2 separate regions of the Homo sapiens genome follow, and region 1 is linked to region 2. The links come from fine-mapping of genetic effects on gene expression. A gene starts in region 2. The other region holds a variant in brackets. All regions are shown on one strand. Distances are from middle to middle.

Region 1 (16,597 bases), 150 kb after region 2:
TTTCCGTATGTCCCTCAGTCCTCTGACCAACACTATGAGTTAAATTACCGCTACAGCTCCAATTGTTAAAGTGAGGAAACTGAAGTATAGAAAGGTTAAGGAACTTGCCCAAGGTTACCTAGCTTGCAAAGTTGTAATTCCAACTGCGTCTCACTCAGCTGGCAGTGTGCACCCTTGGCCACACATTAGAATCACCCAAGAGCTATTAAAAATCCTGAAGGTCATACCCCAGGCAAGTGAATCAGAATCTCTAGGGATGGGTCCCAGGCATTCGTTTGCTTTTTTAGTCTCCCCAGATAATTTTAATATGTAGCCAAAATTGATAATCCCTGCACTAGACCAAGCTCCGATTCAAATTTAAATATTAAGAGGACACATGTATAACTTTGCTGAATAATTTTTTCCTATCGGTAGGATGGTGGGAAGGAATTGCTATAGGCCACACCATGATACTTTGCTGAATTGGATCAGAAAAGTACCCTCAAATTCCCAGCATCATTTCTTCAAGGAAGTAGTGAATTGGGGCACCGTGGGTTTTTTGTTTTGTTATTGTTCTTAAACCACCTTGCCTATGTGCACTCAACTACAGGAACGAGAACTTGCCTGAAACCCCAAACGTGTCTGCATCAGGCATTATTTTTCTTGAGCTCCTGAATTTCTGCTCTAACCAAGAACAACTCAAAAACCTTCAATTTCATAACTGTTGATATGCCACCCACTCCTACTTACACTCCTGACCCCAACCCCATGGAAACTGCCTTTATTCGAACAAACACAAGAATTATAATATGTTCTAAAGTTCCTCTACCTATTTCATTCTCACCATACGCTTATGAAAGAAATGTCATTGTCTTGAAAACTAAGCCTAAACCCAGAAAGATTAGATGATTTGTCCACAGGCACACAGAAACTAAGTGGAAGAGAAACAGGACTCAAGTCTTCAGTTTCCCAATCCACTGCCTCCTAGAACATGCCTGTGAACTGAGGGAGCAGTGCAATAAAGGAAACTTGAGAGGAAGCGCAAAAGGAACTTAAATTGCAAAGTACTGGGTTCCCTAAGTAGCCCTGCCTCCCCTCCAGTTTTCAGCCCACACCTGAACTAAGGTCTTTCATTGTCTGTGGATCAATTTACAGCTGCCCTGCAATCACATTTGTTTTGTTTGTTTGTTTGTTTTGGTTTTGAACGCCCTAGGGACAGTCGGTTTCAGATTAGTCTCTATCAGAGAGCCAATAGGGAAAGATGCAGAAAGCCAGGAGAGCAGCTCCTAGAATAGAGACAAAACCACCTGCATTTTTTCTGCCTCTTCTTCAGGAGACTCCACTGTGGTCATCTGGTTCCCTAATTGAGACACCTCCTGAGAAAATCTGTGCTAGGGAAACACCCAGCCCAGGTGGGCAGATCTCAAGAGGACCAGAACGTTTGAATCTGCTTCAGATAAACCCTCCACTTAACAGTACCAGATCTGGACGAGATGGAAGCTTTGTAGATTTGCCCATAATCCACAGTGCTCTGTAATCAATTCCAGGACCGTGTGGATGGAGACCGGAAAGGTTTCTTTCCCAATTCTTCACAGCCTGGGGAGTAGGGAACTAGTAATTGACTCCAGCCTCCTCGAGTGCTAAGTCCTGGAGTCTGAGTCACACACACTTCCCAAAAGGGCCTTCTAAGCAGCCTACCCCAGCAGAGAGGACCCTTGGCCCTGGCCCTACTCCAGACTCAACTGTAACCTCAGCAAGGTGCAGGGAGAGGATCTCAGGTGGGCCTCCTGGCAACAGTGCCTTTTCAGGCACTAGGCTGTTGGGAATGGAGAGAGAAGAGAAAGGCCCTGGCACTGTCTGGGTATTTGGATGGATTTCTGTGGCACAACTGTGGCACCTGGCTTAGCTCAGTAAAGGACTGAGTGTGCGTGGAGCAGAAAGGGGAAAGAGACTAGTGGGGAGCTGGTGACCAGTTGGAGGGTGGAGGGTAGGGAACAACCCTGGCAGATCCATTTTGCCCTTGACTAGAGCTTAAAGACCAAAGGAAGCGTTCTTGTTTTTAAGTAAGTCAGGTGTTCTAAGTTTAATGTTAATATGCTTTTTCAATTAGATGTTTGAGTATATTTCCCCAGTTGAATTATGTAGAGGGAATTACAAATGAGAATACATCTTACAATTTTTGAATTAGAATCTTTGAGATTATCTATTTAGTCCGGTCTGTTTTGTTTAGACAAGAAAATTGAGCCCATTGATCTTAATCAGTTTGCCCAAGGTCACAGAGCTGGTGAGTGAAAGCTTTAGATGTAGAATATGCAACTTTTCTCTGCTGCCCTCCTTCCCTAAACCATCTTGCCTTAACGGAGGCTCAGTCAGGGGGACAATGGGACTGATCTGTAAATGATCTAACTTGTCATTGCAGAAAATATACTTACTCCGTGGCCACAAAATTTCAGCCCTTCAGCCAAGCTTCATCCATCACATCATAAAGAATAACTTGCCAAAGAGGGGTTTGAAAATCCAAACCAGATCCCTCTCCACTCCTAGAGAGGCCAGTTCCATGACACTGCACCGGAGCCAAGTGTTTCCAGCAAGCCCTGATCAGTTGCATGTTAGTCCTTGTTTGTATGATAAACGGGACCTAGTAGATTAACATCATCTCCTCAGCCCAAGGGCTGACCCCAGTGGTGCTGCTCAAGAGGAAGGAGGAGGCTGGGAGCGGTGGCTCCCGCTTGTCATCCCAGCACTTTGAGGGGCTGAGGAGGGCAAATCTCTTGAGCCCAGCATTCAAGAGCAGCCTGGAAAATGTAGAGATTCTGTCTCTACCAAAAAAAAAAAAAAAAAAAAAGAAGCAGGTGGAGGAAGGAGGAGCTGCAGAAAGGCTCCGGGAGCCAGTGTCTAGTAAGCAGAGGCCTAGCCCAGGCTGAGTGGTCCCAGCCCAGGAGGGCCTCTCTCGGCACCTGTCTTTAGATGCACGTCTGCCTCTGGCCTTTGAGATGCACACATTCATCAAGCAGGAGGATCTGTAGTCATTAAACCAAGGTGCCAGTCTGGGGCCCAGCCTTCAATGAAGCATCAGTGGCTTTTTCATTCCCATAGAGCAACTGCGAGGAAGACCCCATGCTCCCAGGGGCCCAATTCTCCAGGCCAGGACCAGATCATTTGTTCCTTCTCAGAATCTGAGATCTTTTGCTGATGGTTCCAAAATTGAATGCTGAAATCTAAAAAGAAAATTATACTTACTCTGGTCAATGGGATATGTTGGAGACCTGAGAGTGAAAAAATCAAACTGAAGACCAGTTTCCTTCTTTAATGGAAGAAAAGTAAGAAAGTTAACTTAGAAGAATATTTAGAGTTCTGAAAATCCCACTCTGAGACCACTCTGCCATCTCACATTGTTCTCTTGAGCCTTATCTCAATGGATAAAGGTCACTAGAGTTTATTAGACACAGGAAAACATCGTTTACAGACTTCTTCATTGTGTAGGGATTCTGCCTTCAGGCCTGTTCACCAGCCAGGAGAATTGTGCTTTTTGATCCAGGGCTCTTGGCCAGAACAGCCTTCTCGCTCATTAACTCAGTCAACCAAATGCTTCCTGTGTTTCCACTGGTGGTTCAGAACGTAGTCTCTGCCCTCTGATACCTCACGGTCTAACGGGGGAGAAACAAGAAAGTCAGAACTTACAATACAAGATAATAAGGAATAAGAGCAGAGCCTTTGGAACCAGACAGACTTAGATCCAAATGTCAGCTCTGCATTTACTAGCAAGTGGTCTATCTTGGTAAGATGCAACTCTTTTCTCTAAGTCTTAATTTCTCCCTCTGTAAAGTATGACCTCATGGGGTTATTGTGAAGATTAAATGGCATATCGTATATAAGGCCCTTGGCACGATCTTTGGAAAATAATAACCATTCAGTGAATGTAATCTACTAGTATAGTAGCGATTGAGGTGTTTATAGGGTGCTATGAGGGCCCAGAGAAAGGAGATGAGATGAACAGGAGAGAGGAAGGGATACTGTTGAGGAAGGATTTCAGGATGGAATCCCACCACAGGCTGTATTTTGAAGAAATGGTTGAAGTCAATAAGAAGAGTGAAGGGAAGGTGAGAATGTTTCAGGCAGGAAGAATAAAATCTGAATAAGTGCAGAGTCCTGACAGAACATAGGGTGTTTGAGGAACTTGGTATGGAAATAGATTAATATGGCTTAACATGGAGCAAAATGAAACAGAACTGAGACTAGAGGATGACCAGGACCAGGTCATGAAGGACATTAAAGGTGGGTAAAACTCATACCATGAAGGAGAGAAGAGTTACAGTTTTTAAAAGAAAATAAATAGCCTTCAGGAGCTCAAATTTGAAATCAATACGAGATAGATGATCAAGTGAATGTTCTGTCTTCTTGATGAGCCTGACTGAGAAAACCTTATAATCTAACCCAAGGCAACAAACTGAGAAATTAGAAAATAAAACTTAGAGATTAGAAAACAAAAACTGAAACCCAAACTTTTTACTTGGAAATTTAAAAACATGCTTCTATATAACTCTTAGGTTAAAAATGAAATCAAAATTGTAAGACAAGCTGTTTAGAAAAGAACTATGAGAGTACCGTTTATCAAAGCCCATGGGATGAAACCAAAGTGGCACTAAGAAGAAAATGTGGAGGCTTCAATGCATTTATTAGAATACAAAGAATACCAAATCAAATGAATTAAGCATTCAACTCAAGAAAACTAGAAAAAGAGAAGAAAGTAAACCTAAAGAAAGTTTTAAAAAGGAATTCAATAAATTAAAAACAAAACACACAATTTTTAAAAACAGACTTGATTAATAAAACCAAAAGCTATGTCTTTTTTAAAAAAGCAAAAAATAGATAAACCTTTGACAAATCAGATTTTTTTAATGAGAGAATGCACAAATAAAGAGCTCTAAGAGCTGGGCATGGTGACTCATGCCTATATTCCCAGCACTTTGGGAGGCTGAGGCAGGAGGATTGGTTGAGGCCAGGAGTTTAAGACCAGCCTGGGCTACGTAGCAAGACCCCACCTCTACAAAAAATTTCGAAATTAGTTGGGTGTGGCGGCTCATGCCTATAGTCCCAGCTACTTGGGAGGCTAAAGCAGGAGGATCACCTGAACCCAGGAGTTGGAGGCTGCAGTGAGCCATGATCATGCCACTGCACTGGGCAACAGATTAAGACTCTGTCACAAAAAAAAAAGCGTTAAGTTAAGGAGCGTGAATAAAAATAATACATTTCATATTCTAAGACAATATCATCTACAACTTTATTCCAATATAAATTACTAAAACTTTACCATATAAGTAGTAGAAAGCCTGAATAGATAAAAGCTATGGAAGAAAAATTAAAGATAGTGATAGATTTATCACCAAGCTCAGATGGTTCTGCAAACAAATTCTAAGAAACCGTCAGGGAACAGATCATTACTGCGTTGACACAGAAGGCAAACCTCTCAACTTGGTGTATAAGGCTAGTTAACATTGTTACTAAAACAGGCAAAGAATGGCCCCCAAAATAACTCTAAACCAGTATCACCTACAAATACAAAAACTCTATATAAAATATTAGCAAGTGAGTACAAGAGTATAAGGAACTCTATTAATGTAATTCACTGTGCTAGGTTAAGATAAAACCATAACTCTTCAGATATCATAGCTCTTTAGATAGAAAAATGTAAAAGTATTTGATAAAAATTCAACAACATTCCTGACTAAAACAAATTAAAATTGTAAAACCCCTGGAAAGCCAGGAGTAAAACATGTTCTCCATAATCTATAGCAAACATCATAGTTGCTGATAAACCATTAGAAGCATTTCCTTCAAAGTTAGGAATAAAACAAGAATTGCTACTATTGCTACTATTATTTAATCCCATATTGGAGGTTTTAGCCAACACACTATGGCAAGAAGAGGAAATGAGAAAGGTTAATGCTGCAAAAGAAGAAATAAATAAAGCTACCATTGCTGATATAATTATCTATCCAAAAAAAGTAGAAATCCATGATTAAAAGCTATTTGAACTGATAAAAGTTCAGAAAATTGGAATTGTTTCAATATACTAAAATCAATTAGTTTTCTGCACATCAGTGGGGATATATTAGATGTAATGAAAATGAAGGGTCCATTCACAATAGAAGCTATAAAGTATTTGAGAATAAATCTAACAAGATCTACATAAAGAAAAAAGTAAACTGCTTAAAAGTAATTTAAGTTCACCATTTGCAAATTGAACTAAAGAAAAATCTAAAGAAGAACTAGTGAAAATTGCTTGCAATCTTACCACTGAAAAGAAACCTCTGTTAAAATGTATCAGTATTTTAAAACTGTGTTTTGTCCTTTGGAAATATGCCATATTAAGCAAACATAGCATAAGCAAATTAAGCAAAAAGACAAACCTTTTTTTAAAAGCATATTTGTGAAAAAAGCATATTTGAAGCTATGATAAGAAACTGAGTAGAAGCTATAAAACGTAGATTCATCAGGAAGGAGCAGAAGTTGAAAAGGAGATTTCTGGCTGGGCACAGTGGCTCATGCCTGTAATCCCAGCACTTTGGGAGGCCAAGGCGGGTGGATCACTTGAGGTCAGGAGTTTGAGACAAGCCTGGCCAACATGGTGAAACCCTATCTCTACTAAAAATACAAAAATTAGAAAGGCGTGGTGGTGAGCACCTATCATCCCAGCTACTCAGGAGGCTGAGGCAGGAGAATAGCTTGATCCCGGGAGGCATAGGTTGTAGTGAGCCGACGTCATGCCACTGCACTCCAGCCTGGATGACAGAGCAAGACTCCATCTCAAAAAAAAAAAAAAAGAAAAGAAAAGAAAAGGAGATTTCTGAGTAGAAACACGTTAGCAGAGGAAACTTCATTTGGGGAACAGGATTGTTTTGATGCCATGCTCCCTCAGCTGACCACACAGATTACATCCTGGCCAGAAAAAGGCCCTGCAAAGAGCTCTGATCATTTTGGTTCTGATTCCATCCTTAGTTCTTACCCATTATCTGCTTACCCTTCCTCCCCACCTATTTAAGATACAAAGCAAAACAAACCAAAAATACAGATGAGTTGCTTGGTAGAGCTGCCTAGGCCTCCAAGGCGGGGCCCAGAGGATTTTTTGACTGAACCCCCTGTTGTGTTTTCCATATGTGCTTCCCCAGACCGCCCAGGTTTGCTGAATGTGAAGCCCATTGAAGACATTCAAGACAACCTGCTACAAGCCCTGGAGCTCCAGCTGAAGCTGAACCACCCTGAGTCCTCACAGCTGTTTGCCAAGCTGCTCCAGAAAATGACAGACCTCAGACAGATTGTCACGGAACA[C/T]GTGCAGCTACTGCAGGTGATCAAGAAGACGGAGACAGACATGAGTCTTCACCCGCTCCTGCAGGAGATCTACAAGGACTTGTACTAGCAGAGAGTCCTGAGCCACTGCCAACATTTCCCTTCTTCCAGTTGCACTATTCTGAGGGAAAATCTGACACCTAAGAAATTTACTGTGAAAAAGCATTTTAAAAAGAAAAGGTTTTAGAATATGATCTATTTTATGCATATTGTTTATAAAGACACATTTACAATTTACTTTTAATATTAAAAATTACCATATTATGAAATTGCTGATAGTATTTGAAGACTGAGTCTTGTGTGTTTCCCACCCTAGCCCCCAGGCTTTCTTTTTTACCCCTTTTCCTTCTCCCCTCCCTCCCTCCATCCCTCTCACTCTTCCTCCCTCCCTTCCCTCCTTTCCTTCTTCCTTTATTTTTCTTTTCTTTCTTAGACATTTTAAAATATGTGAGTGGAACTGCTGATACACTTTCATTCTCAGTAAATTAATTTTTTACTCAATTTACAACTTTTCGGAACTCTGCATCTGCTTTAACAATCAGAACTAAGAAGGGAAGGGGAACTTCAGAATCAGAAACTGCTCAGAGCATGTGTTTTGTAGCCTGGATGTGCTGATATGCAGCATATCCCTGGGATTACCCAGAATTCAGTCTTCTTCCACAATCCTAACCGAGATTTTCACGCACCACCAGCAGCCTACTCGTATACTACCTACTAATCAATGCCACTGCGCACCCACAGAGCCAGTGGCCAGCAACTGAGCACTGCTAGAAACTCTGGGGAACACAGAACTTTTTTAAGATTTGGTATCTGCGCCAGGCATGGTGTCTCAAGCCTTTAATCCACGCACGTTAGGAGGCCAAGGTGGATGGATCGATTGAGCTGGTCTCTTGTTCGAGACCCTGTCTCCACAACAGTTTTAAATATTAGCCATGTGTGGTGGCACACACCTGTAGTCCCAGCTACTCGCAGGCTGAGGCGGGAGGATTGCTTGAGCCTGGGAGTTGAGGCTGCAGTGAGCTGTGATGATGCCACTGTATTCCAGCCTGGGCCACAGAGTGAGACCCTGTCTCTAAAAAAAGATAAAAAAGATTTGACACCTGCCAAAAAGAATTTACCGATTATAAACTGAGGAGAAAAGATTAATCTTTTTTCATACAGATTCAAATACGCAGATGAAATCACATGCCAGGTGAATGGTAAGAGTTTGTAGGAAGTAAGATGAGTGAAGATTGGAATCCCAGAGACTGAATCTGTGGATTTGCTGAAGAGGGCCTCAGGGAAGTGTTAGACTGGAATAGGTAGAGAGGAGGAGAAAAGACATTCCAGAGAAGCAAAATAACAGGAACACAATGAAAGAAAAAAAAAACTGAGGGAGAAGAGCTACTTTCTGTTTTCTCCTTCTGCAAGGCAGTTTTGCTGTGATTATTCCTGTCCTCCTCCTTGGGACCACTCTGTCCAGAGATCTCTTTTCTGAACTGAGAGGCTAACTATCCGCATCATTAATGGAATGCTTGCCTCCCAAGCAGATAGATTCTAAGTTCCCTGAAGGCGTGACAATCTATTCATTCTTGGCACAGTGAATAGATTCGTTGATTCAATCCACCAAATTCACTTGCATTGGCTACTCATGAACTCATCATACTATGTCTTTGAAGAATGCCTTACGGGGTGTCTAAGGGAGAGAATAGAGTCATGGGTTCTCCATTTCTGTTTCTGACTGGGCCAATAAAGCCCCTTCCTCATCCCTCTTTTCCACTTACCACTAGGGACAGAAATTAAAAACCATGGCTTCAGGCTACTAAAAGCCTAAACCAAACCAAATCAAACCAAACAACAACAACAAAATAAGGCAGGTTGGACAAGCTTACGAGTGTAACCAAACTATCTGGAGGTGTCTGTTGTGCGGGACGCTTATTTCCACTGACCTAAATTTCCCTGCCACTTCTCCCTTAATTTATCTTGCCTTAGGATATTTACACTCAGGAGACATAACTGCAGACTTGAGGTTTTCAAGCCAAAATATCAAGAAAGACCTGTTCATCTTTTGCTTAAAAATAACTATATCTCCAAAGAATCAGGTTATAGAAGTGAGTACTGACCCCAGCCCTAAAAATGTAGGATTCCTAACCCTTCAGGAGAGACCTTTCTGAGCTCAAACCTTTAGGATGACAGATAGACAAAGACTGAAGCCATTGTCTAAGTAACACCAAAACATTTGGAAGGAAAGTGACAAATTCAGTCAGTCATATGGCTCTTTTTTTTTCTTCCTTGATGCCAAACATCAGGATATTTTGAAACTTATTTTCAAACACCCAGATGACTGGCTAGAGTCTTCTGTGTAGAGAGCTGATGGTCAGGGATCTCTTGGAAGAGAGAATGTACAGGCAGTAGACAAGATAGAGTCCACTTCTGAGGCGCTCCCTTATTTACAAGCTTTCTTGAACAAAAAGTCTTTCAGCCCCGCTGCCTGGTCTCAGTTCCCACCAGCGCTCCGCAGCCCATCCAAGCCTTTCCACATTATCGGAGCTGTTGCTGCCAATGGAAGGAGGAAGAGAAACGCTCTCAGCTCTCTGGCACTGATGGTTAGCATTAAATGGCTTTTAAATCCTGGCAGCTTTCAAATTCCCATCTCTGACTTTTTCCCTGTGGCTTGGAAGATCATTTGCTAAATATTTGACAACACTTTATATTCAGCCTCCAAAGCTCCTGCTCCTTTCTCCCTCTTTCTCTCCCCCAGGATGAATCATAAGTTAACGAATCTGTCATCAGTTATTCATAGTACTTTCTCTGGACACAAACACATGTAGGGATGTGTGTTAATAAAAATAGGAAGAAAAGTAACTTTGGTCAAGAGTCAAGAAAGGGTTTCCAGGCTCCCACAAGAGCCCTCCCCCAGCACCTCCCTGGAACGGGCTCCCTTTTCCTTCCTCCCGCTGTGTGTGGAGCCCAGGAACGAAGAGGGGACACACAGAAGAAACAAAGCTGCACACCCTGTTTCTCCAGCCGCCATAAGAAATTAGGCTGGCCTGAGTTTCTGGCTCCTTTTTTACAATGTGGGTGCAGAGCAAGGAGCCTAGGAGGCTCAGGGTCGGAAGAGGTGGCAGCACTAGCTGATGTCACATAGCGAATTTCCAACTAGAGGAAGCCAGAGGGGCAGCTTCACCACCTCCACTGAGGGGCAAAGAGGGAAGGGGACAGAGGCATCTGTGGCGGGCTTTCTTGGTGGCTTCTGGACTCCAGTGACTTTTTCTTGGCTCCCTCGAGGCTAAAAAGCAGGTATTTTCCTGGACAGGTCCTCCTTGCTTGACATCACCCGCTGACCGTGTGGTGCTGATGGAAAGAGCTGGGTGAGAGAGGGGCTGGATGTTGGCCTCTGGATACCCATTCCCTTGGAAATACCTAGTGGAGATGGGCGGGTGCGGGGCTCCTAATTCTACATCCTGAGAGAAAGAACCAAAGCTCATTTCCACCATGCCCATCCCCATTGCTTTCTGGTCCCCCTTTTCCTACTCATTCACTCCAAGAGTTTGGGTTATGAGACAGGAGGACCAAGATGCCTGATGGTCACTAGGTGGCCCCCTCCCTACCTTCTGCTCACCCCCTCATCCTGGTTCTTGACCTCAGCCCCTGGCTGTCTCTGCATCATGAATGTTGTTATTTGCACGTCTCCACCCTGACCGTGGGATTGCACCTGGTACATCCTCCATTTAACACCAACTGAAAAGAAATAGCAGGGTTTTAAGAATTCAAAAGATCATACAATGTCCCAGAGCCCCACCGCATTCATTAAACACATAATCCATACTCCAGTCATGTCTAGCAGGTTATGATGGTGACCGCGACTAGGCCCTGCTCTCAAGGGGGGCACAGTCTGTGGATGAGTAGTCACAGCTCAGCAGACGCAACAAGTGCCTAGAGAGGTGAAAGGATTTGCAGAGCGTGTGCATAGGCCCAAGAGTGTGAAATTCTCCAAGCGTTCAGAAAACGGCCAGGTGAGGGGCGTGGCCCACAGCTCCCAGGCTAAAATGTGGATGTGGCCAGTCAGCGGCAAATTGTGGGAGCCTTGTCCTCCCTGACGAGGAGCTCTCTCGGGCTGTGTTGGTAGCAACTGGGATCCGGGGATGCTGCCAGGCAGAAGAGAGACATGGTCAAATTTGCAATTTGGAAAGTCAGCGCCCCGAAAGTCAACACTCCCCAAAGTAGAAATTCTCTCTACAATGCTCCTGATGGTTGCCCAACCCACAGACAACTACTGAAGAGACAAGAAGCTCTCTCCCCTCTAAGGCCCTGGGTGATTTCCACCCCGCAGGCCTGGCTCTGCCCCTGGGCTCACACTTACCACATGCTTGCTCCTGCACCCTGGGGGCTCCAGCTCACCTCCTTCCCTTTCATCTGGTCGCAATATCTTGCCTCAATCATAAACAGCTTAAGGACACTGGCCCTATCCCCTGTTGATATCCATTCCCTACCGTTGCTCATATTGCCCCAAGCTACAAAGGCCCTCTGCTTCCAGGAGCTTCGTTTCACCTTCTTAATCTAATTCATGGAGATCTCATGGTCATTTTTATCCACATATGTCAAAGCCTGCCTGTCCCATATCTCATGTCCAGAAAAGGCCTGCATTGGTCATAGACCTCAAGAAAATTAGAGGCTGGGCACGGCGGCTCATGCCTGTAATCCCAGCACTTTGGGAGGCTGAGGCGGGCAGATCACCTGAGGTCAGAAGTTCAAGACTAGCCTGGCTAATATGGTGAAACCTCGTCTCTACTAAAAATACAAAAATTAGCTGGGCATGGTGGCGTGTGCCTGTAGTCCCAGCTACTCAGGAGGCTGAGGCAGAAGAATTGCTTGAACCCAGGAGGCAGAGTTTGCAGTGAGCCGAGATCGCACCACTGCACTCCAGCCTGGGCAAAAGAGTGAGACTCTGTCTCCAAAAATAAAAATTAAAAAAAAGCATATTAAAAACAAAAGAGATTATTATATAAGACACTTAGAACTGTGTGTAGCACACAGTATGTGTTCAATAAATAGCAACTATTATTGGAGACGGCACCCTGGGGTGGAATGCAGAGTTACGCTGATTTGGGTTAAAAGTCTAACTTCACAGCTATGGTTCTAGGTCCATATGGCTTTGGCCAATCTCTTAATCTTTCTAGGCCTTAATTGCCCTCATATGTAAAATGAGATAATATCCACCTTAGAGGGCTGTTATGAGGCTTAAATGTAATAATGGTTGTAAAACACTTCACACAGGTTCCCGGTACATCCAAACCAGTCGGTAGTGTTGGCTGCGGGTAACGTTATTGCCGCGGCTGTTAAAGTGCCCCACCTTTAAGGAGGCATTCTGGGCCCACGGGACAGGTCTTCCTGTGCAAGTGTTCTGGACCTCACCTGAGGAGCCTGGAAACTCAAAGCCGGGATTGAATTTGGCACTTGGCAGTAGAGTAAAAATACATTCTCTCAAAAGATTTTGCCTCCAATCTATAAGGATTAGGAGAAAAAAACAGTATTTGAAAGACAACTGCTGTGTTCTGATTTAGAACACATGCTCAGGATGAGGCTACAAAAACATTCTCTCCCCAAGTAGTGGGACTTTTCTCTTGTGACTTACACTCCTAATTTTAGCCTAATATTACATAGTTGGAATTTCCAGAGGGGTTATAAAGAATAAGAAAATTGCTAATTTGAGTCTGTAGGGAGTGGGTTGGGATATTTTCATCCCCTCCGGAGCTGTGTAAATATGTTCCAGGCCAAAAGTTCCCAGGAGAGTGTCATTCCTGGGGTCTATTTAGTGCCACGGGCTTGACTCAAGGAGGATCCTAGTGGCTTCCCGCAAGAGTTGGAAAATTGTGATCCCCTGGCCATTTTTCCACAATACTGGAAGCCGGAAAGTGTAGGTTAGAGCCCCCATTGTCCGTTTGAGACTTAGCACTGCCATTTTCTATGTATGTGGCCTTGGGTAGGTCACTTTCCTCTCTGGGGACATCATACCTGGCCTGTAGAACTATCTCAGCAAATTACATCTAATTCCTTCATGATGAATGGGCCTCAGTTTCCCTAGCCATAAAATGGGAATAGCAGCACCTACCCTGCATGTTTTATAGAGTAAATGAAAAAAAGCAGGGCAAGCCTGATCACTACTCTTTACAGATAAGAAAGGCCCATAGAGGTGAAGGAGCTAGGCCAGAAAAATGGAGAGGCAGGGCTGAGGCTGGACCTCAGGCTTCCAGAGGCCCACCCCTGCTAGGGCTCTTTCTTGGTATGCTGTGCTGTCTCCAGAATAACCAAAGACAGTGTTGCCTGGTTGGCAGAGCAAAAGCGTTAGGGCAGGAAAGACTAAAGTTTGACTTTGGTTCTGCCGCATACTATCTGTGCAACCTTAGGTAAGTTGCTTCCTGTCTCTGGGCCTCAGTTTCTTCATCTAGTTGGCGAAGTCCCCAATTCCTATCTGATAGAGTTGTTGTGAGAATGAGAGGTCATAAGTGGATGAAGTGCTTAAGTCCCATAAACTATTAAAATCTTCAAAAGACGAGTACCTCCAACCTCACAGGATTTGCTAGGAGCTCATCCTGGCCAGGGGACATTGGTAACCAGCATCCACCACCAGAGAAGAAATCATGAGACTCTGCCCATGAGGACCTGTCCAGTGTTGCCTGGGTCTGATAGGGGTTTGCAGTGGGACTTGGGAAGTCACTTTCTCAGAGCCTCAGTTTCCCCATCTCCACAGAGAGCTGGTCTGCCCTTCTAGCTCTGATATCCCAAGGCCTTGGGGGCCTCCAGGGGAGGCTGGCAGGAAGAAAGAGCCCTCTCTGGCTGACCCTCGGAGGCCTGTGTTCTCTGCTGCCTGTGCTTGCATTCAGCCCTCCTAGCGACCTAGGCCTGGACCAGGCAACAGCCAGCACTTATTAAAGGCCTGGGGCTGGTCCAGCCACCTCCAAGGGGAGGGGAGGGACACCGGATGGATGGCTGGTTCCCACCCAAAGCCAAGCTGCTCAGAGAGGGGCGTTGTGCTGAGTCAGCGGGTTGGCAGCTCCTGGCCCGGGGTCTCTGGCCGCCTGAGCCTGCCAGATGGGCTGGAGCCAGGAAGGCCTCCGAGGAGCCGGCGTGTTATCGATGATGCTGCCGCTGCTGCCACAGCAGTGGGAAACGTGCCCTGGAAAAGCCTCTCCCCAGCCAGGCCTCCCAGGGCTGCAGGGTGGGGGACGGTTGCTGGGGAAGGAGGAGTTTTAGGAGTTGCCTCCTACTGTCAAGATTCTAGCCAGGGCTGCCCCCCTCGTGTCCCCTGTCTCCCCACTCTGTCACCTCACGATAGCAAGTATTCTCCAGCACCAAGTACAAGCTTTACTTATAAACTGCCCTCTGTCTGCTGAATCCTTCCACAAGCCCGGTGAGGTGGTTTATGGGTCAGGATCCCAGCAGGGGGAAATGGCACACTCAAAAGAGACCATTGAGGAGCGTGTCATGCAGAGACTAGATTCAAAGTCGTGGGAGGGTTAAATGAAGGGAAACCAGGAAAGGATAGTGAAACATGCCAAGGCCGGCCTCCGCAGAAAGCCTTTACCCCCCACCCGCCCAGCTCTAAAGGACAAGGGAAGAAAAGGTGGCACAACCTCCAGAGGGCTGCAGGCAGAGAAGAGGCTCCCCTCAGGAGTCGCACCCCTAACACCAAGGAATGCAACCACTGGTCACTCCAGCATGGCCAAGAGGAGTCCTTTTCTCCTCTCAACCTCCTGCCAAAGTCTCCCATTGGCCAAGTCCAGCTGGAAGCCAGAGAGCAAAAGAGCCAATGGATACCATGCGTGCGATTCAGCCTCCTGGAGCACACAGCCTGGTAGAGAAGAGTGGAGGGGGCATCTGAGGGGCAAGGAGAATATTCCGCACAGGTGGACAGTATTCTCAAGCCCATGATACTCAAAGGGAAAGAGAGAAACTGAACTCTGAGGTCACAGAGCCATAACTCCATTCTAGGATTCCAACTTAGGTCCTCCTAGCCCCAGAGCCATGGTCTTTCCATTACATGAGACCTGCTGCAAGAGAGGACCTAGGAACCACGGCAGAAGGAAAGGGAGCTTGACTCATTCTGCATCTCCTTACGTCCCTAGCCAGGGTGGGTGCTTGCAGCTGGGAACCCGGTGCGACCCTATGGGGTGCTTCCTGCATGTTTCCATCATGTTCCCTGGAGATGTGAGGAGTGTAGTCTAATGCAGCCCACGCAGGTTTTCCTCTGAAAGTTAACATGAGCTTTGTCATTTACTCCTATATATGTAAATACCTTATATATAGATATTATATATATTTGTAACTTTAAAATTAATGTATAAAGTATCATTTAGAAGTTAAATGACTTCATTTATTTCTACCTACCCCAAAACTTTGAGAAGAAAAAGAGTCCCCAGCATGGAGCACTACATCTTTCCTATGGCTTCGGGTGCCCCTAAGAGAGGGCTGTGTACCCCACTTTGAGAGGCACAGACCCTCCTGTCCTTCAGGGAGAGAAGTTCCTTGCCCAGCGTCTCCTGGGTAATAGTCAGACTTTGAGTCCCGTGACCCTGCTTTTTGCACGGTGGAGACAAAGGAAATCTGGCCAAAATGGAGCCCAGGAGACAGCCTGAAAGGGGAGAAAAGGTCACTCATGGTCAGCCTGAGAGGAGGGAAGAGGAAAAGATTTGAGCTCCGTGTCAGCAAATGCTCACTGACATTCTCTGTCCCCAGCTGTCCCCGTGCTCTGGGGATACATAGATAAGCCTGGCATGACTTGGGTCACCAAAGAACTCACTCTCATGGAAGAGATAAACACAAACGCTGGCAACGCCAAGACACCCGACAGGTGCCAGGAGTGGAATGGCTCGGAGGCAGGCAGGCGGGTTCAAATCCCCCACGCAGCCATTTCTTAGCTGTATCACCGTAGGCAAGCCATGTAACTGTCTAGGTTTCCTCTTTTATAATTGGGCAAGCTCATACCTACTTCCCAAAGTTACCGTTAAGGAATGAGATAGATGAAGTATGAGAGCACTTAGCACGTAACCCAATGCCACAAATGCCGGGACAGAGGGTTGTGCACGTCACGACGAAAGAGGACAGCCATGTTTCTCCAGCCCCACATTGCACTTATGATTCGACGTCGAAAGAATTTATTTTAAATTTCCCAGATAACCTGAGCTCTGTGGTTTCTGTTGCTATGGAAGTGGGGAAGAGGTTTCACTCTGCCCCGGGGAGGTAAAGGGAAGGCTTCACAGTGGAGGTGACATTTGAGATGAGTGGGAGGATT
Region 2 (16,597 bases):
CAATCTATACTGACATATAACAAGTGTTAGAGCAGTGCAGAAGCACAGATGAACAAAGTGACTTCCCAGTAAGGTCTTCCGGAAGGTATTCCGAAGAGAGAAACGCAGCAGAAGTGGAAGATGAGGGCCACATGTTGCTTCCCAATGTATAAACAAAAAGGGGTCAAGAAAGGTGCAAGAAAGTGACTGCCCCCCAGGGATCTGCCAACCCAAGCCCCACCCAGTTATCCCAAAGCTTAGGGGACCCAGCTCTGCTGTAATCTGTTCTTGGCACAGACACGCTTTTTGTTGTTTGTTTTTTTTCAGTAACTGAAACTACCCTGTCTTTCCCCAGGTCTAGATTCCTTGAGCATTTCTTAGCCCGAGCATGCTTGTGTCCTTAGGTCTTCCGGAAGCTGTAGCGTGCACACAAGTCCTCTCGGCAATTAACACACTTTACAATTCGACCATGATAGACGTCAAGGGTTGAAAATATTTCAGTAGAGAAACTTTTCTGATAAATCCAAACTCTCCCAGAGCAAATTATTCTGACCAACGTTTAAACAGAAGACTTATAAAAACAACATTTAACAGAGTTTGAAGGTTTTATGATGAAATGCATTGTCTGGGATTTCCTTCAGAAATGTAGAGCAGGGAGGGATGTGGGTGAGGGTACAGATGAAACAAGATTGCCCAGGGCGTGACATTGGGTTAGGGTACGTGGGGGGTTCATTAGACTATTCTGCCTACTTTTATATAGTCTAGTGTTTTCCATAATAAAAAGTTTTTGGTTTTGTGTTTAGTTTTATAAGACAAAGCAGAATCTATAAATTCACACAAGTGTCCTGAGAAGACCATGTTCATGCAGAAATCTCAGATTCATAGCTATTTCAAAGTCTACCCACTAGACTCATGACTTTTTTTTCACATGCAAAAAAGAGAGTAGAATGTCCATGTAGACTGATAACTAAAGAGGAAACATATATTTTTAAAGATTTTAACATCCAAACTGTGTTTTAATATTAATGAGTGACTATTTCAGATTAGTGAGTGACTAGCAGTAAAAGTATTCTCAATGCTTTCATCCAGATGGTAAATAACATTTATTGAGTTCCTACTGGGAGCCTGATTTGGTAATTCCTCCTGTTATCTCACTGATGAGATTAAGAGAATATATATGTGTATATTCTTTGTTTTCTAATAATATATATATTCCTATTTTAGAGACCCTGTCTCTAAAATATATATAGACATACACAAACATCTGTGAATATATATAAATATATATAAAAATATGTGTGCGTGTGTGTGTGTATATATGTGTGTGTGTGTGTGTGTGTGTGTGTGTGTGTGTGTGTGTATGTATATTTTAGAGACAGGGTCTTGCTGCATCGCCCAGGCTGGAGTACAGTGGCACCATCACAGCTCACTGTAGCCTCAAAGTCCTGGCCTGAGAATATATTATATTGCCATTTTACAGATGAGGAAACTAAGCCTCAGAGAGGTTGAATCTCTTGTTCAAAGTCACAACCAGCAGAAATAAAGCCCGGGGTTCTTTCCTTTACACCAGTACTTGATTAAAACAGAATTTCTTTCTTCAGAAAGGAGAAGACAACTAGAAAGCAGGACTTGCCCCTCCAAGAAAATCATGAGTTCCCATCATCCTAACTTCTACTCAGTCGGCTTCCTACCTCTTGATACTTAGAGGATAAACTGATACCCAAAGTAGGTCCATTTTTAGGGGGAAAAGTGGAGAAAAAATGAGAAAGCAGGACAAATGGCTCTTTTTTTATTCCCTGAAAACCAAAAGCACTTTTGAACCTTTCAAATGTGTCTTAAACCATTAAAATCTTAAAATGTAAATAGTCTAACTCAAAACTGTTGAAATTACCAAGTGAAATCTCTCTGAAATTAAATGTCATTATTAATTTCATAGGCGTTTCCAAACTATAAAAAATAAAATAAAATGTTTTCAAAAATAGATGAGTAAAAAAAAAAGGAGTTATTTCATTCAGTGCTTTTAAAAGGGTGTTATTATATTTCTTTCCATTTTAAAAAATTACCTAGAGGAAAGCTCCACGTTGGTGTATCAAGAGAAAAATTACTAATTTGGCTATATTCTCCATGGTTTTTTTTCTTTTCTTTCTTTCTTTTTTTTTTTTTTTTTTTTTTTTTTGGTGCTATCGCACCTCTGTCCCCCAGGCTGGAGTGCAGTGGTGCGATCTTGGCTCACAGCAACTTCCCAGGTTCAAGTGATTCTCCTGCTTCAGCCTCCCAAATAGCTGGGATTACAGGCACACACCACCACACCCAGCTAATTTTTGTATTTTTAGTAGAGAGATGGGGTTTCACCATGTTGGCCAGACTGTTCACAAACTCCTGACCTCAAGTGATCCGGCCACCTTGGCCTAGTGCTGGGATTATAGGCGTGAGCCACTGCGCCTGGCCTCTCAGTGGGTTTTTCGAACCAATACATAGCTATATTATATTCTTGACTTGAATATAATCAAGATTAATATTTCCATTAAAATGTCCCAGAAATTTTTATTTATTTATAGGCAACCATTCAAAATAGAAATAGAATGCTGAGTGAAGCAGAGGGATACAGTATATGAGAAGATCAAGCAATTTTAAGTTAGAAGAAAAGGCTGTAAATCTGGCTTTGGTCCTTAAGACCTTGTAAGAGATGAGCAAGTTATTTTGTGAAGGGCAACATCGGAGGAGGCAGAATAAACAGAGGAGGAGAAAAGGACCTTAATGAAATTCAAAGTAAAATTGGGAGGTTGTGGGTAAAATTTCATAACTAGACATAAAAATCACAAGTGGGAACATGTCAGAGTCATTCAAAAAGTAGATACATTTGTGGAAGTGTGTGTGTGTGCATATGTGTATGTTTAACCTGCCTGGCATGTTCAACTGGTTATGATTTTTGAAATTTTAAATTAAGATCTTCTAAACCTCCTGGGAATTTATAAGGCTTAGAGATTGATAAATGGTGTCTCAGATAAAGAGAAGGAGCAAATGTCAGCGCTATGATGATACACAGCTGCTATAAATGAGTGGCTTGATTGCTTGACTTCAAATACAGCACACTAACTTTCCTAAACTCAGTCTGCAAAATGGTTTACATGTCACTATTCTCAATGCCCAGTTTTGCCGAACACTCGGATGATAATGAAAAAGTTTTGCTACAATTTTAAATTTTTCCTTTAAGAAGTAGCATAACACTACTATAAAATATCTGAGGTCTGTCCAGTGAGACCAGTTTAAATATAGCTGGAGTAAAATGGAAAACAATTCAGTTATGGTAAACTTCTATTTCTAGACTTGCACTCTCTTCTTAATATAATAAACATAGTATGTAATTATAAACCTGGGAACAAAGTCCTCTTTATTGAAAGAAAAGCAAATATGTATGCAAATCTCAAATGAGATAATCAACTAAGCATTAATTGCAAAAAAAAAAAAAAAAAAAGAAGTCCCATGGGACCATGGGACCATGGGACCAAACACCAATATTTGGAAGGAGTCCTTGTGGTTTGGAAAAATTGAAACGGGCATAGTCTTTCGTCTCTAGGAACCCCATATGGATGGCACTGCCTATGTGCAAAGTTGCAGGGTGGGGACCATGTGCTGTTTATCATTTTATTCCCCGCACTTAGCAGAGGGCCTGGCACAAAATAAGCACTCAATAAAATGTTTGTGGAAAGAAAGAATTCTACAGCTATAGTTTATACAGTGTTTTTCCAACTTTAAAAGATATGGCCCACAGTAAAAACCACATTTTATACCAACTCCTGGTACACTCAGATACACACACACATGCATTACACAAAAGTTACGAAGCAGCACTTTCTTTAATACAGTAGGCATGTTCTGATTATTTCTGTCCTTTTTGCTTGACTAAAAAATACTGATTATGACTGAATAAATTGATTTCATAACCTACTAAATCAAGCCTTGCAATTTGAAAAACAGACATATTATTTCAGTTTACATTACTTAACCTCTTACATTTATACACTTCACTACCCATAAGTCTCCTTAAAAAAAAAAATCACAAAATTTTTGATCCAGAGGGAATTTAGAAAATATTCAGCTCAACTCTAAAGTTTTGCACCACTTACGAATTCACTGTTGTGGGGTTCCCCTTAGTCACTGTTGTTGAATTATGGGAATTTTCCGACCAAAAAAACAGATTGGCCCCCATCTCACATCATATACAAAATTTAACTCAACATGAATTTAAAACCTAAAGGTAAGAACTAAACCTATAAAACTCTTAAAATAAACATTAGGAGCAAATTTCATGACTTTGGGTTAGTCACTGACACGACACCAAAAGAAAAAACAGGTAAACTGGACTTCATCAAAATTAAAAACTCAAATGACAACATCAAGAAAGTAAAAAGAACCAAGCATGGTGGCATCTGCCTGTAATTCCAGCTATTCAGAAGGCTGAGGCAGGAGGATCACTTGAGCCCTAAAGTTCAAGACCAGCCTAGGCAACATAGCAAGACCTCGTCTTTAAATAAATAAATAAATAATAAATAAATAAATAAATAAATAATTATTTTAAAATGTAAAAAGACAACTTACAGCCTGGAATAATATATTGGCAAATCATGTATCTGATAAGAGACTCGGATATAGACTATATAAATAAATAACTCTCACAACTCAACAATAGAAAGAAAAATAATCCAATTTAAAAACAGGGAAAGGATTTAAGCAGACTTTCTTCAAAAAAGATAAATGGCCAATGAACACATGAAAAGATGCTCAACGGGATAGTCACCAAGGCAATGCAAATCAAAACCATGAGACACCGGCTCGGGCAACATAGTGAGATCCCATCTCTACAAAAGAATACAAAAATTAGCTGGTGTGGTGGCATGCACCTGTTGTCCCAGCCACTTGGGAGGCTGAGGTGGGAGGATTGCTTTAGCCCAGGAATTCGAGGCTGCAGTGAACTATGATTGCACCACTGCACTCCAGCCTGGGTGAGAGAGCAATACCTTGTCTCAAAACAAACAAACAAACAAAACCCCATGAGATATCACTTCATACCCTTTAGGTTGGCTAAAATAAAAAAGACTATAACAAGTGTTGACAAGGATGTGGAAAAACTGGAACCCTGACACATTGCTGGTGGGATTGTAAAATGGTGTGCCCACTTTGGAAAACAGACTGGCAGTTCCTCAAAAACACCGAGTTACCTTATGATCCTGCAGTTCTGTCCCTAGGTATATACTCAAGAGAAATAAAAATATATGTCCACAAGTAACCTTGTACATGAATGCTCACAGCAGCATTATTCATAATAGCCCATAAAAGTAGAAACAACCTAAATATTCATCAATTCATGGGATGAATAAACAAAATGTGGTATATGTGTATAATGGAATATTGACCATAAAAAGGAATGAAATATTAATATAAGCTATAACATGGATGAGCCTCACAAATACTATGCTAAGTGAAAGAAGAAAGTCACAAAGGACTTCATATTCTATGATTCTATTTATATGAATTGTCCAGAATAGGTAAATCTATAGAGAAAGAATATCTCTATCTAGAGTTGGTGGAATGACTGTTAATGGAGAGGGGGTTCCTTTTTGGAGTGATGAAAATGTTCTAAGGGTAGATTTGGTGATGATGGCACAACTCTGTCAATAAACTAAAACTCATTGAACTGTACATTTTATTTATTTATTTTTGAGATGGAGTCTTGCTCTGGGGCTGAAGTGCAGTGGCGCAATCTCGGCTTGTAACCTCTGCCTCCCAGGGTCAAGCGATTCTACTGCCTCAGCCCCCCGAGTAGCTGAGATTACAGGCACGTGCCACCACGCCCAGCTAATTTTTGTATTTCTTAGTAGAGATGGAGTTTCACCATGTTGGCCAGGCTGGTCTTGAACTCCCGGCCTCAAGTGATCCACCTGCCTCGGCCTCCCAAAGTGCTGGGATTACAGGCGTGAGCTGCCATACCCGGCCTGAATTGTACATTTTACTTCTATGGTATTTACATTTTAGATTATATTAATTATTCCTCAATAAAGCTGTGATTTTAAAAAGCAGGCTAGGCGCAGTGGCTGGTGCCTATAATCCCAGCACTTTGGAAAGCTGAGGCAGGAGGATCACTTGAGCCCAGGAGTTTCAGACTAGTCTAGGCAACATGTCAAGACACAGTCTCTACTAAACAATTAAAATTAAAAAAAAAAATTAGCCAGGCATGGTGGTGTGCACCTGTAGTCCCAGCTACTTGGGAGCCTGGGGTGGGAGGATTCCTTGAGCCCGGGAAGTCGAGGCTGAAGTGAGCCGTGATTGCGCCACAGCACTCCAGCCTGGGCGACACAGCAACACCCTGTCTCATGGAAGAAAGAAAGAAAAGAAAGGAAGAAAGAAAAAAAAAAAGCAGATTGGAACTCTGGAATTAACAAGAAGTAGGACGCACGGAGCACTTCCGCCTGAGTGGAGACTGTGGATCCGGGTCAACCTGACTACCTAAATCACAGGCCAATAAATGGTCTTTCAGTGGTCAGTCCCTGTAAGATCCGTGGCTCTCAGCTTCTTATCTTAGGGGCTGTGGAGGAAGGACATGATTATGTTGATTTAAGCGCTGAATATTTTCCCTTGTGATACCCATCCTCGCAAAACTTTGCTTCAACCACAAACGAGGACCTTCTGTACCAGAGGGGCAATAACCACAATGAAGCTAGGAAGAAATGCAGAGCACCCCAGCATACAGTCCATAAGCTTCCTGAAGTGGGGGGCCTCAGGCATCGCTGCCTCCCCAAAGAGGATCAGGCCCAGAACAGTATGCTCCAGAAATAAGACTGGAAAAAGGGAAAGAGGGGCCTCAAGTCCAGGAGACCAGCGGCTTTCTGAACGCGCACCTGCCAACCCACTTTGGACAGGTCACGATGGACAGCGTGGCAGGAAAAGAAAAGGTCACTGTCTACCCAACACATGAGAAACTGTTTCTCGTGCCTCACGTCCCCACTCCGTCCCCACCCATGTTGTCTGAGTCCCTCGGTGTCAGAAACACTGCTAAGAAATTTAAGAAATTCTGTTAATGAGTTTAAGAAATGTTTTTAATGATTAAAAGTCAGTGACTTGTGAATAACCATGTAACTTACAAACGCAAGGAACTCTGAAAGTGTGCAGCACCACCGATCAGAAGAGAAAACCAAGGGACCCGAAATATGCTTTAATTAAATTTTCTTTTAAAATGTCACTGGAAAGAACATCTTGGGAAGACGGCCTGGCCGATCGCCGTGTGAAGGGCAAGCCACTCTGGCCGAGAGGGAGCCCCACACCTCGGTCTCCCCAGACCGGCCCTGGCCGGGGGCATCCCCCTAAACTTCGGATCCCTCCTCGGAAATGGGACCCTCTCTGGGCCGCCTCCCAGCGGTGGTGGCGAGGAGCAAACGACACCAGGTAGCCTGCCGCGGGGCAGAGAGTGGACGCGGGAAAGCCGGTGGCTCCCGCCGTGGGCCCTACTGTGCGCGGGCGGCGGCCGAGCCCGGGCCGCTCCCTCCCAGTCGCGCGCCGCCGCCCCCGCCCCCGCCCCCGCCCCCGCCCCCACCCCCACCCCCACCCCCACCCCCAGCCGGCGCCCGCGCCCGCCCCCGCGCCGGGCCCGGCTCGGCCCGACCCGGCTCCGCCGCGGGCAGGCGGGGCCCAGCGCACTCGGAGCCCGAGCCCGAGCCGCAGCCGCCGCCTGGGGCGCTTGGGTCGGCCTCGAGGACACCGGAGAGGGGCGCCACGCCGCCGTGGCCGCAGGTCAGAGTACGGGTGCCCGCGGCGCTCGGGAACCGGCTGCTGGCTGGGCGGGGAGTGCTCAGGGAGGGGGCGCGGAGGGCTGGGGCCGAGGGTCTGGGGGCTAGGGCCGAGGAAACGGGAACTGACGGGGTCCCAGACGGATGAGAGCTGGGGAGAAGGGGGTCTCGGCTGAGGGGTCCGGGGCTGAGGCAGGGTCATGGTCCGGCAGGACCCGGACTGACGGGTCGCGGGCGGGCGGCTCACGGGTGACCGGGTGAAGGGGTCTTGGGCTGAGGGCACCCGGGCTGAGGGTCGCGTCTACCGGAGCGCGCACTAGGGGCGGAGGGCGCGGGCACAGAGAGCCGCGGCCGGTGCCGACTCGAGTGGACGCGAGCCGGTGCGTCCCGGCTTCCAGGACAGCCCCCCTCGGGAGAGCGCCGGGTGGGCGCGGAGCCGGGGACACGGGGACCTCCGCGTCCCCGGCGGAGGTGCGCAAGCGTCGGGAGCCGCTCCGGGGGAACTTTGGAGCAGGGTGTCTGGACCCGGGGAAGCGAAGATCCGCGTGCGTCCGTCCTGAGGCCGCGCGGCACCCCTGCTGAGGAGGAGGTCCCGTTCGCTGTCCAGAGCCCAGGGGCGACCGCCGCTTGGGGACCGGGGGACCGTTCAGCGAGGGGCGCGCTTGTAGCTGGCCAGGCCCTGTGCCCTGACGCGTTGTGCTGGCCCTACGCCCGGCGGAGGGGCTGGGGACGGGGACTGGGTGCCTCCGTGCCTCCGCGGATGGAGCGCGCAGCCAGGACCCCCAGCCGCACCCCGGGGGGCTGGAAAGGCGAAGTCGCTGCTTTGTGGGCTCCTGCAAGTGCCAGGCGCTGACCACTCCTCCTGGGAGCCTAACTGAGGGGGGTAGAGGCAGCAGAGGTTAACAGAAATCTCAGGTCCCTTGGTGGAAGGTGGGTGTGTAGTCGTGGTACTTTACGCCTCGGTGTTTAGGGAGGAGCCTAAGGTAAGGAGTCAGAAACGGGGAGTAACCGAGCTGCGGCTTTTATATAAGGTCAGTGGTAGGTAAGGAAGGGGCCTTAACCTCTGCTGGTGACCAGAAGCCTGCATTTCTGCATTCTGCTTAATTCCCTTTCCTTAGGTGAGTTGGCTCACTCTCATTGCATTTTGTTGGAATGTGTTGGTGATAGGTCCGAAATTTGCAAAATTATTGTATTATCCTTATATCATTTTTTTTTGCAGTGCTCTTGTTTTATAAGAAGAATCCAATTCACTTGGGTCATAGGCTAACGGTTGTAAAAATAGTGTCATTGTTATAAAAGAAATCAAGTCAAAAATAGTCGTCTGCCATGAAGAAACTAAAATTTTTCTTCTTTTCCTTGCAAGATTAGGGACAAAATGTAAAGTTTATTTGTGTAAATTATCATTTGGATATAAAACCAGACAATGATAAACTGAGTTGTATAATACCTATTCCTGGAAAACCTCTGATTTTGAAGTACATTATTTTAACCCCAACTGTTTCTGTCATTCGTGAGACAAATTGTTAACTGGATTTATTAAGAGAACAATGAATAACTTAACTCTTTAAAAGGACCTGGGCAAATCTTCGACAGGTTTCAGGTATTTTATGGCAGTCTTTCTGTCTATTGCTAAGTGATCGATTGCTGACTGAGAACAGAACCAACTGATGGTGCTAGATGATTTAGAAAACCTTTCTGGTATAGGGACTGGCATGGACATTCACTGTGGCTTTTCTCTTAAAGAAATACCTTTCACTCCTAGGGGAGTTTGACAGAAGACACTCATAGATGCTACCAGTTAGCATTTGGAGTAATATATCAAAACATTCTGTTCAAGTTTTAAAGTAAGTTTTGTGTAGTATATTTTCAATCAGATTCACTTTGGAATCAAATACACTTTATTTGATTCCAAATAAAGTGTATTTGAATATTCACTTTAATATACGAAACTTTAAAGGTAATGTCTCAGCCAAAAAGTGAAGTGTATTACAAAACTGTCCATTTTTGTCTTCTTGTGTACTTCACATAATTTTTCTCCCTGATTTAAATTATATGATATTTGATAGTTAACTTGCTAATAATTATGTCTTAAGAGATCTTTGAATCAACTGGTGGCCATCTCAGTCTTTTAAAACTCACTTGAAGGAAAAGAGAAACACTAATGATGGTTTTTTTTAAAATCAAAAACTTTTTTCATATTTACAAGTTTGTTTCTAGTTCTTAAACAATAACTGCTGTAAAACCATGGCATCAGTGAGGTATAAAGTTTTGTAGAATCCCAGGCTGAAGACTTTTTGGATGTCGTTTTCTCATTTCTTTACATTAAAAAGAATATAATTTCTTTTTAAAATTAAAACTAAAATGTCCACCGGCCTCATATTCTTTATTGAACTTAAGTGCTTTGAAAATATTTTTGCGATTGATATTTTTAATGATAAAATATAATATTTTCTTTGAAGGACTAGTTTCCTAAATGTTCATTTTTTTGTATGTTTCAGAACTACTTTTAAAAAAATTCTAGATTATGCTTTAAATTGCAATATTTCTAAATTCCTATGACATTTAAAATGTGTACAAGAGAAAAGGTGTGACATGAGGAATATGAATTAGAAGTGGATTACTAATGGTCGTAGTGAATTGTTTTTAATCAGTGTTATATAAATATAAACAAATACTTTTTTCTTCTGTAATTTTCTGACAATAAGGATGTTAGCCACTAACCTTAATTATCAAGATAATTATGTGCATGAAAGCTGTGTAAAAGGCACAACCGTGGAACATATACAAGTATTAATAATACATTTCATTTAGTTTTCAGGTTATAAAATCGTTATTAATAACAAGAGGCTTTCATGAAGTAGGAAAATATGTTAAAATGACATTTTCTGAATGTTTCACACATTCTGGCCCACACTTTCACTTCTTTCCTAGCATCTATATATTCCCAATGCATAGGACAGAGTTGGTCATTCTAATTGTGGGTGTCTTTCTGCTGGATTCGTTGTCACTTGGACTTGGAAATACAGTATGTCATTAGGTGTGGCAAATGTACTGGAAGAAGTTTTTGGTCTCATAGGATTCCACTAAATAAATATTAGCTGTAGAGGATTTTTAAAAACTCACTAATAGAGAAAACTTGGTGAAGTCACTAGTGTGTAAGCGTAAACATATGCACCCCCCACAACTGAATTTCTAATTTGCTTATTTTTCCTGGTAGATCTCCACTTTGCTTACTCTCTCTTAATATCCCAAAGCAACAAAAAGCGCAGTGATTTTAATTGCTTACAAAGGTCCTTTGAAACGGATCTAATTTGACTCCACAAAAGAATAGTAAGAGTTGTGAACAACCATCTTGCAAGTGTAGATATCCCCAGCGTATCAACTTCAGTTAGTTTCATAGCGTTCTAAATCAAAAATTTAGATTTAAGATTATTTGAAATCTTCTTGGAAGTTCTTACTTACTGTTTGCGTTTTCTCAAAATACAGAGGTAGATTGGGGGAGTAATATAGTATATGTTTTAAAGCTGTTATTTAACTAAAATGTCATGTTTTAAATTTTATTTAATGCACTTAAAGTAGGTTCTTGGGATAAAATCTATTCAGATGCAATAGGCCATGTTTTGGGGAAAACTTTTGTAGATGTTTAGATAATATCTGTCATCAATAATAGTATATGTTTAAATTATTTTGTAAAAACAGATTTACATATTTTTAAAATTTCTCTTCAACAATAAGTACACATCAATATTTTAATGCCGAGAATTTCATTCAGAGTATGACTGTTTACATTTTCAACTGTTTCAATTATTATGGCTTAGGCAAGTACCTTATCCTTTCTCTCAATTTTGTCATCTTTGAAACGGAGAAAGTGTTGCAGTTATTATTGCTTGCTCTTTTGCTATGATTTTAAGGCTTTATGAGCAAACCCATGTACTTTAAATGATGTGACCATGACCCTGAATTTAATTGAGCTGATATTCTGAAAAGAACCTTCATGAATATCTATGTCATAGCTAACTCTTTTACCAATGTTAATAGTTCACTGTAGTTCAAACCTCAATAACTTTGAGATTGTTAAGATTGAAGATGATGCTTCTCATGTGGTGATCAATTTATAAACTGTTTCTGGGAATATTTTATTATCATTCAATTTAAAATTGTATTTTCCATTCCCTGATGACTTTGGACAAAAATCAGCATAGTAATTATTTTTATTCCAGCTTTGCGAGTCCTGTGTAGCCCCTCTTATGTTAATATTATACATCCGATGCATCTAGAAGGCACAGATTGTGCGCTTTGATTTGATAAAGCTCTAGTCTTTGCATATCTTTATGGCACACCTTGTGAATTCTTAACGTATATTCCCCAGGAGCAAGTTCGTTTTATAATGAGGCCTAGGATCCATCAGATCAGAAGACAGTTTAGTGTCACAACTTAAAAGACTAAATAGTGACTTGTGCTTGTCATTAAAAATGGGTCTCTTTCAACAAGCACTCACCAAAAAATAGTGTTTTAGTGGCTTGAAAGGTTCAGATATCTCCTAATAACCCACCTATTTGCTAGTAGGGAGTAAGTGGAAAAACATATAATTAACTGTGCACCATCCAAATAATAAATTTTAAATTCTTCGCGTGAATTGTTGATACATATTGTTGTGAAGTGTCTCCTGCTTAAGAAAGTAAGGGACTTGGACTGAATATGCCAAAGAGGAGGCCTCTGCAAGCGGTGTCTTGGTGATGGGAAGTTACTGGTAACAGCACACGGGGTGATGGGGTGAAGAGGCTTGTGTGCGTGGGCCCCGGGGGCTGAGGATTGTTGGAGAGGACTTCTCCCACCTTCTCTGGGCCCCAAACTGCACACTGGACTGGCAAGCCACTCTGCCCACTGCAGTGTGGAGCTATAAAGCCCAAGTAGGGACTTCACTAAAAGGATGCAGAGGCGAAGGCAAAGAAAGGCTCATGCTGGTGCGTGTAGGTGGGCTGAGTGTCCCTGTCCGGGAGTGGGGAGCCGTGTTATCTTCCACTGCCTTAATCCTACAGCGTAGGCTTTCTCAGAGTCATTGCCATACCTTCAACTGTTCCAGTGGCCAGGCTGTTCTCAACTTGAAAATCTTTTGTGGGACAGTGCCATGAATTTTTTTTCCTACTGCGATTTTTTAGATATAAAGGAATTGAATCCATTAAGTGGAGATTTTAAACCCTCCAGTCAGGATTTAAACTAGATTGTGTAAGTTCAGTTCAGTTGGATTCAATATCTGTTTAGGAAGCATTTTTATTCCACTTCATTGATTTTAGAAAATAAATTCATTGCTTGGTTTTAACTATGTCACTATTAAAAAAAAACCACTTTAATTTGTGGACTCATCTGGGAGGATTATGTGTGGATATGACATATTGAGTCAGATTATCTGACCTTCTGAGAAGAGTTCAGATTAGCAAAAACGTGGGGTGAGAAGTCCTTCGCAGTTTGCCACAGGTAAGGAGAAGGTAGATATGAGGGAGGTAGAGAAATAGGGAAATACCCTGAGTAGGAATGTACCAGGTCTGTATATGCTCAACTCCCACAGTCAGCAGGTTGCATGATTACTGTGTATAGTCTTAAAATATAAGGTTGATTTCTAAGAATTTACCCTGCTTCTTGGTGACATTGTAGGACATCTCAGTTTGCCACTTAGCACTGTTATTCTTTCTGGCTCTATACTAAAGGAGATAATTTGGGCAAGGGAATGGAAAGAGGTTACTTTTTCATCCTGTATGTTTAAGGAATAAATTTTCCTTCATATCGAGGGCAGTGGAGAAATATAACTGTCAAACTGTTCGAGTGCAATGATGAAGTTCCGGAAGGAACTTCCTAACCTTGACCACACCCCTCTGGCTGTCATACACCTCTTAAAATGTCTTTGAATTTGAATGTCTTTGAATTGAAATTTAAAATGTCTTTGAATTTGAAAGCTTTGGGTCTACTTTTAAAATGCCAAAGTTCCTGGCAGGGTTAGTTCACTAAACCACTATCAGCAAAAATGTGAAAGGCTAGTTGCTTGTTTCCTTGCTACCTGAAAACAAGGCCTTTAAGGAGTAGAAAACAGATTTGGAGTTTGAAAGAGGGGGTTAGGAGAGGGAAAAATAAAGTTAATGCATGTCCCAGTTTCCTCATAAGCCAGAAACTTTGAAACAAAATAGGAAAATAACCATTTGGAATAGCAGTGATAGGAAAAGATATATTTACCCATCATTTTTTTTCTCTTAGTCAAGACAAGTCGCAGATCTTCCTTGAACCATTTTTGACCTCAAAACAGTTATTCTGAAACATCAATTAAACTAAGAAATGTAATCACAGTTCAAGTTATGAGCTAGTATTATCTTAATGTAATTAAATATCTGAATATTATCACTTCATTATATCTTGTATTTCCTCTGTGATGTTAGACAAATTATGTGGTCTCTTCATGAGTCAACTCTTCCAGGCTTTAAAAGTAGCTTCCTAATAGATTGAAATGAGAGGAACTTTTCAATCACTTCAGAAAATGATGTGCCAAGGTAGTATAAATAATGCTTAATCCTTTGGCAGATCCACAGATCATAAAATATCATACATGCGGCCAGTCGCAGTGGCTCACGCCTGTAATCCCAGCACTTTGGGAGACAGAGGCAGAAGGATCACCTGAGGTCAGGAGTTTGAGACCAACCTAACCAACATGGAGAAACCCCACCTCTACTAAAAATACAAATTAGCTCGGCATGGTGGCACGTGCCTTTAATCCCAGCTACTCAGGTGGCTGAGGCAGGAGAATCGGTTGAACCCGGGAGGCAGAGGTTGCAGTGAGCCGAGATCACGCTATTGCACTCCAGCCTGGGCAACAAGAGTGAAACTCTGTCTCGAAATAATAATAATTATTATTATACATACTTAATTTTATTTTTGCTGAAAATAGTATGGCAAGCCAGTGCATCTCTGTTAGAAATAGAAACTTAGTAGCCACCTCAAAAGCAAGGTCATAATTCTGTGAATCAGCTAATAGGTGGTATTTAGCAGTTAGGTATGGGCTACCCTCGTGCCTCATGACTAATCACATTGCTTACTCGTCATGCATTTTTTACAAAGTCTTGCTAAAGTCTGTGAATCTAAAACAGAGAATCTCAAAGTGTTCCTTACTGAATGTTATCCTTTCCGTCAGTTGATAATTACCTGTGTAAACAAGCTTTTGACTGCATCTAGAAAAGCACCTATATAAATTCTTCTGTTTTATATGGTGGATAAAGTTTATAAAGGAGAACAAACATAAGAATGATGTCAATATAAATGAAGTAGAAACTTCAAAAATCATTTGCATATGTCAAGTATAATCCAGAAGAGTGAAGAAAATACCCAGGCATTTGGCAATATAGGATTACTACATGTTTTCCTAAAGAATTTGGAACTGATTAGAAACATCCTGATTTTATTTAAAAGCAATATAATGTATTTTTACAGTTTGTTTTCAAGAAGGTTCAAAAAAAAATTTTTTTTTTTTTTTTGAGATGGAGTTTCGCTCTTGTTGCCCAGGTTGGAGTGCAATGGCGCCATCTTGGCTCACTGCAACCTCCGCCTCCCAGGTTCAAGTGATTCTCCTGCCTCAGCCTCCCGAGTAGCTGGGATTACAGGCGCCCACCACCACACCTGGCTAATTTTTTGCATTTTTATTAGAGACGGGGTTTCACCATGTTGGCCAGTCTGGTCTCGAACTCCTGACCTCAGGAGATCCACCTGCCTCGGCCTCCCAAAGTGCTGGGATTATAGGTGTGAGCCACCGTGCCTGGCAAAGAAGGCTCAAATTTGGTGACTTTTAGGACTAGAGCAGTTTGATGTCTGCAAAAATCTAGACACCAATTTCTTGAAGGCAGGTACTGACTGAATTCTATTCCAGCATATAGCACAATTCTTAGTAGGCACTTAAATGTTTTAGAAAGAAGAAAGAGCTGGTCATGGTGGCACACACCTGTAATCCCAGCACTTTGGGCAGCTGAGGTAGGCAGATCACTTGAGGCCAGGAGTTTGAGACCAGCCTGGCCAACGTGGCAGAACCCCGTCTCTACAATAAATACAAAAATTAACTGGGCGTGGTGGCACACACCTGTAATCCCAGCTACTCGGGTGACTGAGACAGGAGAATCACTTGAACCCGGTAGGTGGAGGTTGCAGTGAGCCGAGAAGATTGTGCCACTGCACTCTAGCCTGGGCAACAGAGCAACACTTTGTCTCAAAAAAAAAAAAAAAAAAAAAAAAAGAATAAAGAATTAGTCTAAGGCAGTGGTTCTTAAAATGTGGTCCTGGGATCGTGAGCATCCTCTGGCAGCTTGTTAGAAATGCAGTTTCTTGGACCTCATCCCAGACCTGTGGTGGGCCTAGCAATCTGTGTTTTAGGGACTCTGCTTTATACGCTGTTTGGGAACTCTTGGTCCAAGATGATTCTTGCACCCCACCTGATAGAGTGGGGCCCATTTGTCAGTGTGCTTTGGATGATTTCTAGTAAGCCTTACCCTTGCTTATGGTTAAGTTCTTTGCCCTATCTCTCTCCACTCATAGGATCTCTTGGAACCATCCTATAAAACTACCCCCATTGACCTATCATTTATTACTTAGAAAAGCTCAGTAGTGGTGTCAATAAGCTTTTGTCAAGAGGCTAGCCGGCTCACTAATTAGACCTTGCAACACTGGTTCTTTTTAGCTTAGCATGGCTGCTTAGGAATCCCTAGTCTCCGCGTCAAAGACTACAACTTCAAAGACTGGATTTTATAAAATCACAGAAGATGATCGGCCCTAGAGGACTGGTTCATGTTAAACAGATTTACAAGATATGG

Direction of the effects. Positions count from the first base shown, and alleles are read on the strand shown. Sizes are in standard deviations (SD) of each study's normalised expression.
For the expression in rectum of the gene that starts at base 8,814 in region 2, C is the high allele of the variant in region 1 and T is the other (moderate effect, 0.68 SD a copy in CEDAR).

Evidence for each region. PIP is the estimated chance that this variant, and not a neighbour inherited with it, causes the effect.
Region 1: its variant is fine-mapped to the expression of PPARG in rectum (CEDAR, PIP 0.95). The same link has a PIP of 0.9 or more in monocytes, monocytes after LPS and transverse colon.

What each region holds. Positions count from the first base shown.
Region 1 is chr3:12,426,750-12,443,346 of GRCh38, forward strand. PPARG (peroxisome proliferator activated receptor gamma) reads left to right here. Exons shown (of 8, transcript NM_138711.6): 8 at 7,149-7,595. The coding sequence ends at 7,396. Among named protein-coding and RNA genes, the nearest start is that of TSEN2, 49 kb to the right of the region's middle. The variant C/T (reference allele first, on the strand shown) is at 7,309.
Region 2 is chr3:12,280,257-12,296,853 of GRCh38, forward strand. PPARG (peroxisome proliferator activated receptor gamma) reads left to right here and starts at 8,814. Exons shown (of 8, transcript NM_138711.6): 1 at 8,814-8,878. RefSeq lists an enhancer at 6,797-7,375.